Linked DNA regions of Homo sapiens. Changing the gene in region 1 together with any one later gene gives a genetic interaction. Each region holds a gene or a part of one and is shown on either strand. Other genes may lie near its edges.

Evidence for each region. Genes that interact genetically often act in the same process or in processes that back each other up.
Region 2: changes in NOD2 (region 1) and ATM together harm fitness more than expected from each alone (negative genetic interaction), as found in Homo sapiens cells (one study listed by BioGRID).
Region 3: changes in NOD2 (region 1) and IL22 together harm fitness more than expected from each alone (negative genetic interaction), as found in Homo sapiens cells (one study listed by BioGRID).

The regions. Positions count from the first base shown.
Region 1 is NC_000016.10:50,689,569-50,696,608, reverse strand, and holds the start of NOD2 (nucleotide-binding oligomerization domain-containing protein 2), read right to left. Parts: upstream 3,004-7,040; 5' UTR 2,947-3,003; intron 1-2,946. UniProt on the Homo sapiens protein: Pattern recognition receptor (PRR) that detects bacterial peptidoglycan fragments and other danger signals and plays an important role in gastrointestinal immunity.
Region 2 is NC_000011.10:108,366,050-108,369,619, reverse strand, and holds the end of ATM (serine-protein kinase ATM), read right to left. Parts: 3' UTR 518-3,570; downstream 1-517.
Region 3 is NC_000012.12:68,250,588-68,258,527, forward strand, and holds the start of IL22 (interleukin-22 precursor), read right to left. Parts: upstream 3,018-7,940; 5' UTR 2,996-3,017; intron 2,908-2,995; 5' UTR 2,862-2,907; coding exon 2,676-2,861; intron 2,243-2,675; coding exon 2,177-2,242; intron 2,061-2,176; coding exon 1,917-2,060; intron 992-1,916; coding exon 926-991; intron 1-925. UniProt on the Homo sapiens protein: Cytokine that plays a critical role in modulating tissue responses during inflammation. Plays an essential role in the regeneration of epithelial cells to maintain barrier function after injury and for the prevention of further tissue damage.

The sequences.
Region 1 (7,040 bases):
TTAATCATTATGTCTAGCTTCAGTTTCTCCTGCTTCAGTTTAAATTGGGAAAGAGAGAGAAAAAATATTCACTCATTATCTGTTTCCTAAAATTGTCCTTAACATCCTTCCTCTTACTCCTTTATTACCTGGTCGGGCTTCCCCTCTTCAGGCGAAATCTGTCAGTCTATCTGCATTGCCTTTTGATCTCTACTTCAGTTACTACAACTTCAAAGACACCATTGTCCTCCCCAAGGTGAGGCCCATGTAGAGAAAGGATCACTTCCTTGCTGAAAGAGAGGGTCAAGGGGCGACCCACGTGGGCCCTCCCTGAAACCCAGGCCCAGGCCTGAGCCTGGACACCTCCTTCCTTCCTGAGACCACAGCCAGCCCGGTTTCTCTGGGGCCAAGAGCAAATGCTTTGCTTAAGTGCTGAAATCTCAGCCCACTGACCCCTTGCAGACAGGAGAGGAGGGGAAGCCCAGGGAAGCTCAACTTCCCAAGTGTCCTGAGTCTCTGCTGGGGCCAAGCCCCCCACCCTCCCCCAGCTATCCTGCATTCTCCCTCCCTAACACTGTTCTCTCCCTAAGAGATCAAATCCCCCCACCAGTGCACAATGCACTCTAATTCTCCATTGTAAAAGTAAAGCACTCTCTTGACACTCCCCTTCTTCATTTGGCTCCAATCCCATTTATCTGCTCCCTTTACAGCAGGCCCCCTTGTCTGTTGCCTGTACTGCTGTCCCCAAGTCCTCCCATCCCCTCCCATTCCCTCTAGTTCCCCATCCAGCTCCAGTGAAACTGTCACCAGTGACCTCCCATTGCTCAATCCTCAGCCCTCAGCCTGCTTGCTCTGCCAGGGGCATTGGTCATATTTGTTCCCTCCTTCCTCTTTGGGGCATTTTCTTCATTTCCTCCAGGACACCCCAACTCTCTGATTTTCACTCTTTCTGTCTTCTTGGCTGGTTCCTAACACTGGGGGCCCCAGCACTCAATGGTTAGACCCCTTCTCTTCTCCATATCACTCCATCCCTAGATGAGCCCACCTGCTCTTGTGGCTTTAAATACCAGTTATATGGTGATGATGCCCAAAGTTTTATTTTCAACTCCAACCTCCGCCCTTAACTTTTCCCAACTGCTTACTCATCATTGATGCCTAATGGGCAGCTCAAACTCCACAAGCACAAAACCAAACTCTTGATCTCTCCGCTAAGCAACTCCCATTTCAGTTCATGGCAGCTTCAAACCTCCAGAAGCTCGAGCCAAACACTCAGAATCATCTTTGACTCTACCTTTCTCTTGCACCCCAAACCCTATCGACACGGCCTTTGAAATATATCCCAAATCTGAATGTCTGGTTTTCTTTTTTTTAACCACCTCTGGGCCATGGGCAAGACACCATGGTCTCTCCCGAGAATGACAGCAATGATCCGCTCAACGGGCTCTCCTTCTGCCCTTACCCCACCCCCCCCATGATCCATTCTCCACCCCACAGCTAGATGGGCCTGCCAGACCCCAAGTCAAAGCAGGTGACTCCTCTGTTCCAAACCCGTGCTCCCATCATGCTCAGAGTGAAAACCAAAGCCTCCCAGCCCCCCAGATACTCATGTGGCTCACCCCTCAATTCCTTATGACTTTGCCCAGCTATCGTGGTCTTGGGGAAGCCTTCCCTGGTTGTGCTATATACAATGCAATACCCAGCCCCAGCACCCCATCCTGCTTCCCAGCTTTGTTTTACTCGTAGTACTTCCCGCCACCTGCTACGCCATGTATTTACTTATTTCATTGCTGTCCATTCCTTTCTAGAGTGTGCACTCCATGAGGGCAGGGGGTTTTGTCTGATTTTCCTACTGCTCTGTCTCGTGTCTCATCCAGTGCATGAATGATGACTGCTGGAAAGAATGAAAGAACTGACTTGCTCTGCATGGCTCCGGGAGACAGACATGGAACCAAGGTGTAGAATCTGTAAGCCACAGATTTTAGCTAAAGGAAACAAGAGCTGCAAGGCACTAAAAAGCCACCTCATCAGTAATAAGCTCCCCACCACTGGGCATGTGTCACAGAGGGGCTCTGCACTGGGTAGGAGGGAGGTGGGCTGGATGAGGATGCTTCCAGCCTCAGATCCCAGGGTGCAGCGAGGCAAAGGGGCCTTGAGCAGCCAACAAACTCAGGGGCCCCAGCAGCCCCATGGCTGAGTGATCGGGACAGGCAAGTACAGGTGGTGGGGATGTCACTCTGGTCTTTTTCACTAAGGGGTCAGGGGAGGGTGACAGGGCAGGTGTTTCCCCTCTGTAGAACAAGGACCCTGGAGGAGGCTAGGTCACAGCCCATGGGGAAACCAAGGCCATGGCAGGAGAGGCTCAGAAAGAGCAAACTCAGAAGCAGGGGTCCAGCCCCCAGCCCTCATGCAGCTTCAGGAGGTCCTCCCCAGGGGGATTGGGGTGGAGGGCTTTTCAGTTTGTTGGAATGAAAGCAGGACCAGATGGCTGCTCCATCAACCTGAGAAGCATAGGAGAGCAAACAGCTGGGGGATGTGGCCTCGCAGGTCCTGGTGTGGGCTGTCTGGGAAGGGATGGATTTGAACTTAGATCTCACACCCAACAAGGGAGAAGGAGGAGGCAGGAGATTCCCATAAGAGGTACAGAGAGCAGCAGCAGGATCCTCCAGGCAGACTCTCTCACTTATACCCACCCACTCACTGGCATGGTGAAGCTGGGGAAACTGAGTCCCACAGAGAGGAAGGAAATCAAAAGAGTGGCCCAGGGGCCTCCCCAACCTCGAGATGCCCCCTTTCCGTCTCACTTCCCATCTACATTCTGGGACTCCCCCAGGAGAAACCGAGGCAACCCTTGCCCAAGCCCTGCGGCCAGGACGGCTCAGAAGCCAAGTGTTCAAGTCCCGGGGGTGGGACCCTCGGCGCCCACAGTCTCCCCCCAGCCCACCCCCAGGCGCTGGGCACAGCACTCACCGCGAGCCGCCTGCGCGCCGACTCCAAGGCCCACTCCGGGCCACGACTCCCGGCTCCGGCTCCGGCTCGGGCTGCGGCTCCGGGTGCGCGGGCGCTCGGCTCCGCCCCCGCCCGGACCCCGCCCCTGCTCTGCCGGGACCGCAGCACCCGCTCCTGTCCCGTGGCCCCGCAGCCCCGCAGCCCCGCAGCCCCGCAGCGCCGGCTCCAGGGCTGGCCAGGCTTACCTGGGACAGGGCAGGACCGGGGCTTCCTGCGGGGCTGGACGGCCCTGGCTGTGTGCCCTAGCCAGTGTGCCTCTCTTTCTGGGCCACGTTTCAACCAGGAGGGAATCGGGGAGTCCTCGGAACAACCCGCTTCCCAACACATACACATACACACACACACACACCACACACCACACACACCGCTTCCCAGCACACACGCGCACACACACACACCACACACACACCGCTTCGCAACACACACACACGCCCTGCTTCCCCCCCACACGCAAACATGTTTCCCAATACACACACACAGCCCTCGCTTCCCCCCACACACAAACATGCTTCCCAATACACACACAGCCCTCGCTTCCCCCAACACACATACCTTGCTTCCCAACACTCACATACACACACACACACGCCCTGCTTCCCCCCACCACAAACATGCTTCCCGATACACATACACCCCCTACTTCCAACACACACACCCTGCTTCCCAACACTCACACACACACCACTTCCCAACACACACACACCCTGCTTTCCCAACACATACACCCCACACACACCGCTTCCCAACACACACGTGCACACACACACACACCCCACACACACACCACTTTCCAACACAAACACACACTACACTCCCTGCTTTCCCAACACACACACACCCCACACACACTGCTTCCCAACACACACGTGCACATACACACACCCCACACACACACCACTTCCCAACACACACACACCACACCCCACACACACCACTTCCCAACACACACACCGCTTCCCAACACACACAAACATGCTTCCCAATATACACACACCCCACTTCCCAACACACACACATCGCTTCCCAACACACACATCGCTTCCCAACACACGCCTCACTTCCCAACACACACACACACACACACGCACACACAGCCAAAACTAGGAAAACTTTTCCAGAGTGTGACAGGTTACATGTTAGGTAAGAGTGGACTGGTCATTTAAGGTTCTTTTTTTTCATTTTCCTTTCAGTTTTTCCGTTTATGTTGAATGGAGTTTATTTCTCAGTTTAGTACTAATAGGGTTTGAGTACCTTTCTAGCACTGCCTAGATTACTTGGCTCTGAAACTATCTAATTAGCTTTAATAGCATTGTTTTTGTTTCCATTAAATATATTTTATTTTACATTCTTCTGTTCTCCGGAGCAAATGACACCGGTTTTCCATTTAACATGTTAATGTAAATGTTCCTTTTGAAACTCATATTTGGTTGTTTTAAAAAATGTGAAGTCAATTTTTAAAAATAACGAAAATAACTGGCATCTAGAAAGTGTTTACCATGTGCTAGTCTTTACAGACAGTAACTCAGTTACTTCCACCTCTAGGGTATTGACTATTATTGCCTCTAACTTATAGATGCAGAAACTGAGGTACACATTTGAACTTTGATCTCACGCCCACCAAGGGAGAAGGAGGAGGCAGGAGATTCCCCTAAGAGGTGCAGAGAGCAGCAGTAGGATCCTCCAGGCAGACTCGCTCACTTACACCCACCCACTCACTGGCATGGTGAAGATGGGGAAACTGAGTCCCACAGAGAGGAAGGTACTCAAAAAACAGTGGCCCCCTCTGAGACCTGAAGCCCGGGCTCCTCAGGACTTCTCACTCCTGCCAGGGGCCTCCCCAGCCTCGAGATGCCCCCTTTCCTCTGGCACCAGAGATGGGGATTTGCCCCAGGCCTCTGGCACAGATGAATGCTCTAACCACTACCCCATACCGCTTTCAAGTAAATACCTGTGCAGGTGGTGCACAGTCAGCCAAGGTTGGAAAATGCTGCATTAGAAGGACTGAATCTACCCTAGAAAATTCATTCTGGGCAGCGCACAGAACCATCTACAAGGATGTTCACCACCATCTTGCCTACAGCAGTGAGAAGCTAGAAACCTCCCTAATGCCCAGTAACAGAAAATTAATTAAGAAAACTGACAGAACATCTGAACCTAGAACACTTAACCCGACCCATCTTCTCTCAGCCCCACTATCCAATCTGGGAGCAAATTTTTCAGCTTGGCCTTCAAATATTTCCAAGCTGCAGCCCATTTTTGCCATATGCACCATTACCACCTGGGTCCACATCTCCATCATCTCTCACCTGGGTGATAGCAGGAGTTCCTGGCCATTCTCCACGCCTCCATCTACAGCCCTTCTTCAATCCAGCAGCCAGAGTGAGTCTGTTGGTTTTGCTGTTGTTGTCGTTGTTGCTGTTTTAAGTCAAATTCTATCACTCCTCTGCTGAAACTCTTCTGTTGATGGCTCCCATCCCAAAGTAAAAGCCAAGGTCCTTACAATTGCTGTTTGGCCTCTGGCACCCTCTCTGCCCACCTCTTACACTCTCATCTTACTCACTCTGCTCCAGCTACACTGGCCTCCTGGCTGTTCCTCAAATATGCCAAACCTGCAGTTACACTCAGGCCTTTGCCTTTGCTGTGCCTGGAATGCTCTTTCTTTAGAAATCTACCTGGCTCCCTCCTTCCTCTCCTTTGGGTCTTTGCTTCCATATGACTTTCTCGGCAAGGCCTTCCCTAACTATTCGGTGTACAGCTGCAACACCCTCCAATCCCTTCTCTCCTGCTTTATTTTGTATTTTTCTCCATAGCGCTTATCTGCACACAACACATTATGTATTCTACTTATTTATTGTCTTTGTTGTTGGTCTCTCACCCAAGACAGCATGAGCTCCAAGGGAACAGGGAATTTTTGCTTTGTCCCTTGCCTTCTCCCAAGGCCTAGAACAGGACCTGGCATGCAATAAATCTTTGTTGAGTGAATATACTAAAAATAATGCTGTGGTTCTAATAACCAATGAAAATAAATGAATCACTGTACCCCCACGAGAACTGCAGCCTCACAGACATAATGTTGGGTGAAACAGGCTGAGTGCAAGAGCGTGCATACGGAATGGTATCCTTTCTATAAAGTTCAAAAGCAGGCAAAACTGCATTACAGGTAGGAGCCAAGATAGAGGCTACCACTGGGGAGAAAGTTGGAGGTAGTGACTAGGGGAGGAGTGAAGGGGACTTCTGGGGTGCCAGTAATCTCCTATTTTTACTCTGAATAGTGGTTGCATTGATGCAAATACATTGTGAAACTGACCAAGTTAAACACATGATATTTATATTTTCCTTTATGCTTGTCATATTTCAATAGATATTTATTTTTTAAAGATGCTATAAGTATGTTTATCAGATAGAAAGCTGCCTAGAATATATAAGGCTAAATTTATAAAGTAGACTCTTTTTTGAACGAGGATGCCAAGATGATTCAGGGGGAAAAAAGTGGTCTTTTTAACAAATGGTGCTGGGAAAACTAGATGTCCACATGCAAAAGAACTGAATTTGGATTCCTCCTTCAGGCCTTATACAAAAATTAACCCAAAATGGATCAAAGTCCCAAATGCAAGATTTAAAATATAAAAATCTTAGAAGAAAACATAGGTGAAAATCTTTGTGACCTTGGATGAAGCAATGATTTCTCAGATTTGACACCTAAAGCACAAACAACCAAAGAAAAAAATAGATAAGTTGGACTTTATCAAAATTCCAAGCTTTTGTGCTTTGAAAGACATGATCAAGAAAGTAAAAAGACAACCAACGGAATGGGAGAAAATAGTCACGACTCATATCCAGAATATATAAAGGACTCCTGAAACTCAATAACAAACAACTTTTTAAATGAGCAAAGGATTTGAAAATGTTCAGAGAACGTATGTAAGTAGCCAACAAGCACATGAAAAGACGCTCAACATCATTAATTGTTAGGGAAATGTGAATCAAAGCCACCATAAGATACCACTTTACACTCACAAAGGTGCCCTTAGTCCAAAGGACAGAAAACAAGTGCT
Region 2 (3,570 bases), on another chromosome or scaffold:
TCTCCTTACTTACCAAATTCTGAGTCATTATAATCTTTGTGGAAACTTTGACTCCACTATATTTATGCAAAATGCATTTTGTTAAAATCTAGGCAAAAGAGACTAAAACTCCAGAGGACTGAATTTATTTTAAAAATATGATAAACAGGTAAAAAACTTTGCATTTAGGATACCAGGATCTTTGCACTTGTCATATTCTAGTACAGATCTTTTAGGCTAGAAATGTCAACTAGATCACTTTCTAGGCCCAAAGAAAGAACATTCATATTTGCCTTTTCGTCAGGAGGCGACTAAGAAACACTACTAGGATATTTAGACTGAGATGCAGCATTATCAGACTGGTTGTGCAATAGGCTCCCCGGTTCACACTGCGTGGTCAGTTGCCTATCCTCCTCAGATTGGGAGCTTTATATAGGCAGACTATGCCTGCCTTGCTCACTGCTTTCTCCTTAGAACGAGTCCCATGCCTGGCACACAGAACACACAAATATTTGAATAAAGTGAATGAGTCTTAGTATATGCTTTTAGAATTATTTATTCAAAAACACTTTATAATAAATTCAGGTAACAGTAAAGTAATACATTCAATAGTACTAAAATCTATAGAAAATAGATAATTTCATTAAGGTGCAATTAAAATACTTGAAATTGGGACACATCTCTATATTTCAAACCAATATACTGGCTTTCTTTTTAAAAGACTATTCTAGTCTTTACGCTGTCCAAAGTTTTTCCTCTTTGCTTTTATTTGCTTTAGACCATATTTAAATTTTTAGCATTCCTAAGTGCATACATTTTAGGCATATACTATAATGACCAAGAGTTTGTGAACCTACTGATTAGGTAAACACTTTGGGGAGGTATGACCTGCACAAAGTAGGGTGGGAAAGCTATTATCTCCCTTAATCTGGACACAACTGTTCAAGCAGTCTATAATTTATTAGCTTCTCTGATAGCTTCACTATTTGGTTTTCATTGACCTTTTGAGCAACTGACTGGCAAACCCCAGATTCTTTTCGCCTGAAATCTTTTCAAGTTAGATACTGTCCATATTACACTTGTACTTATAATTTACTATCTTCTTGCCTTGGACAACTTATTTCTCCAAATTCTGATTTCTCCAGCAGTGTATTGGGATAGTATCACTAATCTTGCAAAGTAAAGATCAGAAATGCTGTACATAATATGGGTCAGTGACTTAGCATACAACAACTATTCTATGATTAATATTTTCAAAATCTAACTACTCCTCATTTGTCCTTGGCAGTTTTCTATCTTAGTCATTTGCAGAAAGAGTTCCAGCTTGCCAAAACCTTTTTTTTTTTTTTTTTGAGGCAGAGTCTTGCTCTGTCGCCAAGGCTGGAATACAATGGCAACCCTGTCTCTACTAAAATTACAAAAAAAAAATCTTTTATAATCTTAATTCTGTCATCTGTGAATTAGTTATTTCTCCTAGGCTTGTGATCTGTATGTAAATTTGATAAACTTTTCAAAGCCATTGATTAGAATACTTGAACAGAACAGGAGCCTCATAGCATACCATGCAAGGCTAAAGAGTAGATTAATGATGTTATTCAAAGCTCTCTGGATGCAACAACTAGCAAGAATTAGCTACAAATTCATTTATCTATACTATTATCTAGTTGATAATTTCTAATTTCACCCATGAAGATTTCAGGGCTTTCTTAAAGACATTTTAAGTTTACTGCATTTCCTTGATTTACTATAGTAATAAAACTACCAATATATACCAAATATTCATTTAGGCAGCTTGTAAGAAAAAGATACACCAAGGTAAGTTTGTAATTTGAAATGCAAAGTAATATTCTGAACAGTTCTCCAGAAGTCAAACCAAGAAATTTATAGTCCAAAAAGTTCTGGAGATTGGTTTTAGGGGAGGGGAAGGTGAGGAGATCAAATATGAATGAGTGCCTGCCATTGGCAATAAAAAGAAATGCCAACTCTTCATAAGAAAAAAATTTATATAACCTTCAAGGTCCAAATACGAGGAGAAAGCTCAATCACCCATTTGTTAATCTCCGCAGCTGGGATGAACATTTTCCTAAGGATGGAGAAGAGATTATACTCACTAATACACGAGTCAGTAGTTTTACTTTCAGGTGGCTTTTTATCTGATGTTTATCTTATATGATGACAGCTGGGGGACAGAGAAATGTTCCACTTCTACCTATGTATCAAACTAGATACCTAAGCCCTTCCCTTCCAACAGAACACAGAGAAATGCTGGATAAAATGTAGAAAACATTCTTTTAAATACATAGCAGAACTTACAAGAAAGGGGAAATCCTTACGGTCAAAAATGAGGGGAATGAGGCCGGGCGCGGTGGCTCACACCTGTAATCCCAGCACTTTGGGAGGCCGAGGAGGGTGGATCACGAGGTCAAGCGATCGAGACCATCCTGGCTAACACGGTGAAACTCCGTCTCTAATAAAAATACAAAAAATTAGCCGGGCGTGTTGGCACACGCCTGTAGTCCCAGCTACTCGGGAGGCTGAGGCAGGAGAATTGCTTGAACCCAGGAGGCAGAGGTTTCAGTGAGCTGAGATCATGCCACTGCACTCCAGCCTGGGTGACAGAGCAAGACTCTGTCTCAGAAAAAAATGAGGGGAATGAAAAACCAGAGAGGTGAATATGTGAGCTGATGCTGTAGCTGTCCTGGAACAATTTGCCAGTCTCATTAACCCACGGCTTTTAGCTTAGACATCTATATGGGGAGCAAAGAACCCAGGGCTTGCCAAAGGCAGGCAGTGGGAATTAAATGTACCTCCTTCCACCCCTGCCATAAAGGTGGGACACATGGAAGCTTATACTCTCAGTGAAAAAGGCATCAATCAAATATTCTGCCCACTAGCACAAGGAGATGAGGAGGAAGTGTGTTTGCCTTGGCCTGGGAAATCTCCTATCAGTATTTATGCTACACTTCAGGTATGGAAACCCTAAAGCCAAGAAATTAAAATAAGAATGGGCTTGTGTGCAGCAACAGCCCTGGGAATATGACATAAACAGACACTCAAGATTCCCATAGATAAAGCCTTGCTGAAAATAAACTCACTTTTCAAAAAGACAAAACTGGATGAACAGCCTATCAAATACAAAAATCAACAGATATAAACAGCAGGAACTAAATTTAATAGAACTATTACAGTGTCTATCAAGTACAGACATTTAAAATAATTAGTGACATAAAAAACATTAAAAAAACATTAAAAATGACATCAAGAAACAGAGATCTGAAAAATGATGCATAATTAGAAATGAAAAACAATTTCTGAAAGAAGAAGCCCAATGGATAGGGTAAAAGAGATTATATACATCTGACAAGAGAATTCATGAACTAGAAGGCAATCTATGAAGTTATCACAGAAAGATAACATACATGGACAGTACAGAAGGGCTTAAAAGATAAAGAGAATAGAATGAGAAGTTTTAATACACACTTAAAAAAATAGTAACTACACTAACTGTGTCTTTGAAATTTGTTCTCCATAACAACTTCATTATTTAGTAACACTGAGTGATCTTACTAGGAAAAATCCAAATACGTTTCT
Region 3 (7,940 bases), on another chromosome or scaffold:
TTTCACTGCTCCTAATCATTCCTCCGGTTTTGGGGTGAGTCACTATTGTTAGTCTAAGCCTTCCATTGTTGTTCTTTTCACCAAATAGGCCACATGATGGTATCATTCACTATAGAAATGTACACCAGCCCACCATGGATAAATGCTCCCTAGGGATTTGTTGAGGGAGTGAAGGAAGAAACTAGAATGGAAGGTCTTGATGGGAGAGAGGAAGAAAAAAAAGCTTACCAATTCAGACTTCCATTTAACTTTAATAAATCTCTTACTAATATTTTTACTCTATTTGAACCTGTATAAAAGAGATCGGGGTTGTCTGCTCTTGCTTTTAAACTATAATCAATATCTGATAGATATTATGATAATTCAAAATAAGTGTTTATTACTCCAGAAATTAGCCCTATATGCAAGTCCAGCTCTTTTCTCATTGTTCTGAGTTTATTCTTCCAAGTTTCAAAGCAATGCATTAATGACTTCAAAAATGACTTCAAATAAATTTGCCCATAGGCATTTTTCTGTTTTTAAACAAGTACTTCTTCAGATTACATGAGTCAATAGGAATCTGAAATTTCCCTAAGAATTAATGGTACCAAAACTAATCTGTATCACCACCGGGAAAAGTGCTGGCTTGGGATTCAGGAGACCTGCATTCTAGCCCTATCTCTGCCACTGACCATCCCCAGAATCTGAGGTTATGTGACTAGACAAGCTAAGATCCCAACCAGTTCTAGAATTCTACAATTTGCAAGATTTGGAAACTGACATCTAGATATATAGATATATCTACATACACAGACACCAAAGTAATCGCCCTGGTGGTAGGAGAATCAAGTGAAAAATCACAAAGTGATGGGAAGAAAGAAAGGAAAGAAAAACAACATTTGTCTCTCCTATTGCATGACTTAGCATTGACAGTTATCAGTCCTACCTTTTTCACTGTGTCCTTCAGCTTTTGCACATTCCTCTGGATATGCAGGTCATCACCTTCAATATGCTATAAAACAATAACAAGCATAACTATCTTAATGTTGTGCTGAAACTTTATGAACCTCCACACCCATGGAGGTACAGTACAATTCACCTGGAATTAAAGCTCTTAGTAATTTTGCCCACAATGACCTAGATTTCAACAGTGACCTAGATTTCCTGAGCTCTTGAATTCCCTTGGACGCCAGAATCCAGTCACTTCCCTTACAAGAGACCTCTCTTCATCTTTGGGAAATCCTACTGAGGTTTGCATTTGTGGAAAGAGCGGAGTAGTTTATGCAAATTCTGTAAGGAATAAAACCTCAATCGTATCTCCAGAAAATTGCATGCTTAGAACAAGAAATGTACATAAAACATCTCATGTGAAAATTAAGCCCTCTTCAGTAAGTCCTAGGGCCTTTTACTGGGCCCACTCCACTCAAACTTTTTTTCATAGTTTCAAATGTTCAGCGGCATCAAGTTCACACGCCTCCGATTTTGTGGCTTCCCATGACATCAACAGGGCAACAGTCTGCCGACCCACCACCGACTTTAAGCCTTCCCATTTCCCACTTTCTCTTCTAATTTCTCTCCATGCCATCCCCTCCCCTCAACAACTTAGACTCAATGGATCCATTTCCACATCTAGATGTTTTTCCCAACACCTTTCTCATCTTACGCAACCTGAGTTGCCTTTTTTCCGAAGACAAACCAATGCGGCTTCTGTACACTTAAGTTCCAGACCCCATTCACCACTATAAACTCAAGATGTGACTCAGTCAAAGCAAAAGCAAATACTCTATGATCCCAAATGACTCCTGATAACACTGCTGCCAAGACACTTCTTCCTGCTAGCTTAGGGGTAGGGGGAAGGAGAGAGAGTTGGGGTAAGGGGGTCTCTGTGGAAGGAGGGAAGGAGGGGTAGGTGGGCATAGGCTGAGAGCTGAACTTACACATGTGCTTAGCCTGTTGCTGAGCCTGGCCAGGAAGGGCACCACCTCCTGCATATAAGGCTGGAACCTATCAGATTGAGGGAACAGCACTTCTTCAAGGGTGAAGTTCAGCACCTGCTTCATCAGATAGCAGCGCTCACTCATCTGCAGGTGGAAGGGAAACAGAAAGGGTCATAAGGGATAAGACCTAAACCATCATCACCACCACCCCAAGTACCCATGGACGGCACACGGCCCTGTTCGTCACAACTGTAGCTTACACTGACTCCGTGGAACAGTTTCTCCCCAATGAGACGAACGTCTGTGTTGTTATCAGCCAAGCTAGCCTGGAAGAGAAGAAAAGACTAAGGGTCTGGACATTGAGCAAATAGAAAAAAAATTTATACATAGACATGTGCCCCATCCCGTCTCCCCAGAGCAACATCATAAAGACTAAAAGCAGAATTCAGATGTGTGCATGAGTTTAGAACAATGCACAGAGGCATAAAGGAAAAAAAAAATCATCAGATGGATTACTGAATGGCCGCTCTTTGGGAAAAATTCATCATATGTATCATAAAGGCCAAAATGGAAGGAAGAAGTTCAAGAAAAAAAAAAAAGCCAGATTCCCAAAGAGTCTCTGAAAAAACAGAAAATTTATCTACCCTCAGGGATAAACAGTGGGTTCCTAAAGCTCTTAGAGATGCTCTGAAGAAAAGTTTAAGAACTATTTGGATTCCAAGTAGATCCAACGAGAAAGAGCAGGATTGAGATGTATACCTCCTTAGCCAGCATGAAGGTGCGGTTGGTGATATAGGGCTGCTGGAAGTTGGACTTGTCAAGCCTGCAGTGGGAGCTGATGGGCGCAGCTGCTCCTCCCTGTACCAAGAGGGCCAAGAGAAGGAGGCAGCTGGTGGCCAGGGTCCCCATAAGGAAAGAGCTCACAGATTTCTGCAGGGCGGCCATTGCAGACAATTCTAACTCGAGCAACTGGTGACTGGGGAAGGAGAACCTGGTCGAAGACAACGTGAAGGAACAAAATTAGTCAAGAAGTATTTCATCAAACTAACCAATTGTACCAAGTTTGCCGAAACGCTTACCTGTTCTGAAGATTCTGCTTGTGACGGGGAAGGTAGAAGCTGCTGCTTTTATAGCCCCCAGGATACTGACTTTTTTTTAATTGTGAAAAATATGACATCAGCAATTATCTAATTTCCAGTACTGTCTTCTGAGAACGACCTAACCACCACAGGAGCCCACAAAACACCACCTCTATCCTTTCCACCTTGAGATGCAAGTGTTTCCCTAAAACGTCACTATTAGAGCCCGGAGGGTATTTTACAGACAAATCCCAGAAATTTTCTAAACCCTACATATTTTTCAAAGAACACAATTGTTTTGTCTTAGTAGAGTTCAGATTTAGTATAAAATGTTTTGATCTCCTATAGTGGCTGAGTAAGCATTTTGGTCACGGACTCATTTTCCTACCAGCTTTATAGATTCTTATCTCATTGGAGGTGATCAGAAAAAAAGGACCCATGTCCTATATCCTCTGCTTTAAAGTAAATGGTAATGACAGCTAACAGATCATTCCATTATTAAAATAATTTTATCTCATTTTTAAACATGCTGAATTCTAAACCAGACTTATGTTTCAAAAATAACTGTCTTGGCTAATCTAATTATTGTTTTCTTCCCTTTTTGGAACTATTTTTAAGTGATCATAACAATTAAGGCAGAAGTAAATATATCTTAAAATTGTATTAATTGAATTATAATCAATATCAACTTAAGTTTGTAAATACTAATGCTGAAAATCTGATCTCCTTTTTTCTTAACATGTAAACTTTTTTTAAAATAAAAGAATACCATGGATATAGTTCATCTTAAAATTTTACCTAATTCTACACTTCACACAAGTCTCAACATAATATTTCCAAATAATCCTATAACAACTATATATGTGTGTGTATATATATTATATATGTGTGTATACTATATATATACATATATATGCAACATTTTATATATATACATATATACACACACACACATGGATGTCTGAAGAAGGGAATATAGGAATATAGAGGTTCCGCGTTACCTTCAAATTATTTAAAAATACACCTAAAACTAGACTGGAAATTCTCCCGCAGAGCAAGGAAGCAAATGCAAGTATCAAAATGCAAATACCTATTGCTGAGGGAAGGAATGTGAATTAGTGCAAATTTGTATAATCAGATTTTTCTCCTCACAACTAGTTAAGATCAGGAGTGTTGAAGAACTGGAAGTAGGGATGTAAATAATTGTAAAACCTAGACCACTTTTTGAGATGGCACAGACCTAAGCAAGGTGCCACTGCAAAGGGTCGGAACCACATGAGGACACTGAGCATTTGTGAAGGTGGCCAGAGGAGAAAGAAGCAAAAATGAAGATTAGTGAGAGTAAAAAACACCACATGATCACACTTGCATGTGGAATCTAAAACACTTGAACTCATAGAAGGAAAGAGTAGAATGGTGGTTGCCAGGGGCTGGGTGGGCAAGGGGCAGCGAGATGGGGAGATGTTACCCAAAGGATACAACATTTCAGTTAAAGAAGAGGAATAAGTTGAAGAGCTCTATTGTCCATCATGGTGATGATAGTTAAGAACAATATATCGTATGCTTAAAAATCACAAAGAGCATAGATTGTAAATGTTCTCATTACAAAAAAAAATTTCAAGTATGTGAGGTAATGCATATATGTTAATTCACTCAATTTAGCCATTCCACAATGCATGCGTATATCAAAACATATATGAAATCAACCTAAGTATCCACAGATGGATGGATGAATGGATAAAGAAAATGTGGTATATATACACAATGGAATACTATTCAGCCATAAAAGAAATGTAATCCTGTCATTTGCAATAACGTGAATGAACCTGAAGGACACCATGTTAAGTGAAATAAATCAGATGCGGAAAAACAAATACTGCATGATCTCACTGATATGTGGAATCTAAAAAATAATAATGATAATAATAAAGTTGATATAGAAGCAGAGAATATAACAGTGGTTTACCAGAGACTGGGGGAGTAAGTGGGGAAAGGAGGATGGGGAGAGGTTGGTCAACGGGTACAACGATACAATTAGAAGGAATAATTTCGGTGTTCTATTACACAGTAGAATGACTGTATTTAACAGGAAAATATTGTATTTTACAAAATAGCTAGAAGAGAGGCTTTTGAAGATTCTCACCACAAAGTAATGATAAATGCATGAGGTGATGGATACACTAACTAACCTAATTGTATCATACAGCATACACTTATATCAAAACATCAAATTATACTCCATAGATATGTACAATTATAATGCATCAATTTAAAAAATAAGTAATTTTTAAAACATCATATTGTGTAACATAAATACTGTATATATAATTTTTATTTGTCAAATAAAAATAAGATTTTTTTTCTGAATTGAAAAAAAATAGGTGTGTTCCAAATGTTTCCTTGGGGTTGACCATGGGCCCAAGAAAAGATGATGAAACTCTTCCTTATTCAGTTTCCTATTATATATGGCCATTTTTGCCCAGAACTCCGTATAATTCTATTAGCACTAGATTTAAGCTATTCATCGATTAAATAGGCTTTTGTGGGTTTGCCTGGGAAACTGACCAGCATACATAATTTTCTTTCCACGGGAAAATAAGTTTTGACATCGTTGAATTACATGCTTTCGAGGGAAGAGTCTCTGTCTCTTTCGTCTTTGTGACTCCAACACTTAGAACAGTGCTACACACATAGGAAGGACTCAATAAAAGCATATTGACAGCCTTTACGGTATTTCTAAAGTTGATGTTTGACCCAGTCCTGCTTACCAGCTTATTGTTCCTGAATAGAAAATAAATCACTGTGAAACAGAAAGAGAATGTCAGAAAATTGCAAAGCCCTCTTTAAGAGCAGCAGTGTGTCTCTTATTCATTGTATGCCCCTGATGGACCAAGCATCAAGAAGATAGTGTTAATGGAGCCTAGATCTTAAGTTTCAATGAGTTTAACTAAAACTCACTAAAGGGAAAATCTGCTCTGGTGTTGTATGGGGGTTTCTGAACAGTCATACTAGGAGTCTCAGAAATATTTGCTATTAGAAGAGATTGTGAGGCTGGGCGCAGTGGCTCACGCCTATAATCCCAGCACTTTGGGAGGCTGAGGTGGGCAGATCACCTGAGGTCAGGAGTTTGAGACTAGTCTGGCCAACATGGTGAAACCCTGTCTCTACTAAAAATACAAAAATTAGCCGGGGGTGGTGGTGCACCTATAGTCCCAGCTACTCGGGAGGCTAAGGTGGGAGAATCGCTTGAACCCAGGAGGCTGAGGTTGCAGTGAGACAACATCACCGCACTGTGCTATAGTCTGGGTGATAGAGCAAGATTCTGTCTCAAAAAAAAAAATGGAAGAGATTGTGGGTATAACAAAAAGGTGATCCTGTGAAAACAGCAACCAGAGACATATGTATGCTAAATACTTTCAGATTATAATGGGCCTTTTCTGCAGTTGTTTCCTTGTGAATTTTCAAGTCTCTCCCAAAGCCACCGCAGATGAAGAGCAACCCCAAAGCCCACCTCCCAGGTCCCAGACAGACCATACCCATGGTTGATTTGGAATATGTAACAATTTACCTGATCTAATGCCAAGAAGGACTAATCAGAATCCTCAACCAGAAGTAGGCTTTGGCTGTCTCATTCACTATACTGTGCCTAGCACATGGAACAGTGCCTGGCATATAGTGGCAAAATAAATATTCATTGATCACATACATAAAATAGTTTCCCAACTCATTGACTGATGCTAGAAAATCCATGACTGGAAATGCATTCTTTAAGACACAAATCTCCCTAGAAGAAAGAAGACTTCTGGTATCACAGGTAAAAAGATTTGTACTCATCATACTCTTCAGTCCAGTGCACATGATCATTGTTCCATACAAGTTTCTGTGTGTGTGTGTGCACACGTGCGTGGGTGTGATCCTACCCTCATCATTCTCCTTCCCTCCCCACTAAACACCTACCACCACCTCTACCATTGCCATAGGTCATGGCTCTAATGTTTCATGTGTATTTCTGAATATCGATGCATCCCTGTGCAAAAAGAAGTGTTGTTTAGTGTGTGTAGGTATTTTTATTTTACAGGAATGGCTCTCTTTCTTACCTTTTTACTGAGCATGATGTCTTACCATCTGTCCATGTTTCTTTGTGTAGCCTCTGCTTGTAATGTGACATTCCAGAGTGTGTACCGACCACATCTTACTTATTCATTCTCCAACAGTGGGCACCTGAACTGCCTCCAATTGCCCAGACCACAGACATTGTAGCTCTAAACACCCTTAACCAAGTCATTTTTATGGTATTTTTTGAGAGTATTTTTGACATAATTTTTGAAGTATGTCCACTAAGTCATAAGGATAAGTTTATTAGCATTTACTAAATATTGCCAGATTGCTCTCCAGAAAGAGTGTTAATCTACTCTCACACCAGCAAATAAAGCTTCCTCTGTTTCCTTAAATCCCCCTCCACACTTCGTATGATCCAGCTTTAACTTGGCCAGGCTTTGGAGGTTTAAAATGGTATCTATCTTGTTACTGTTTTAATTTACATTTTTCTTCATACACTAGTAGCCACTCGGGTTTCCACCTTTTATACATTGGTTACTTACATTAGTCACTCATTTTTCTAGCGGGCTTTGCTCTTTTTCTGTTGTTGATTTGTAAGAGTTCCCTGTATATTTTTGGTTGTAGCCATAACAAACTCTCCTCCTTTTGTTTTGTTTTTGTTTTTGTTTTTTTTGAGACGGAGTCTCGCTCTGTCACCCAAGCTGGAGGGCAGTGGTGCAATCTCAGCTCACTGCAACCTCCACCTCCTCAGTTCAAGCAACTCTCCCACCTCAATCTCCCAAGTAGCTGGGATTACAGGCATCCGCCACCATGCCTGGCTAATTTTTAGTAGAGATGGGGTTTCATCATATTGGCCAAGCTGGTCTCGAACTCCTGACCTCAAGAG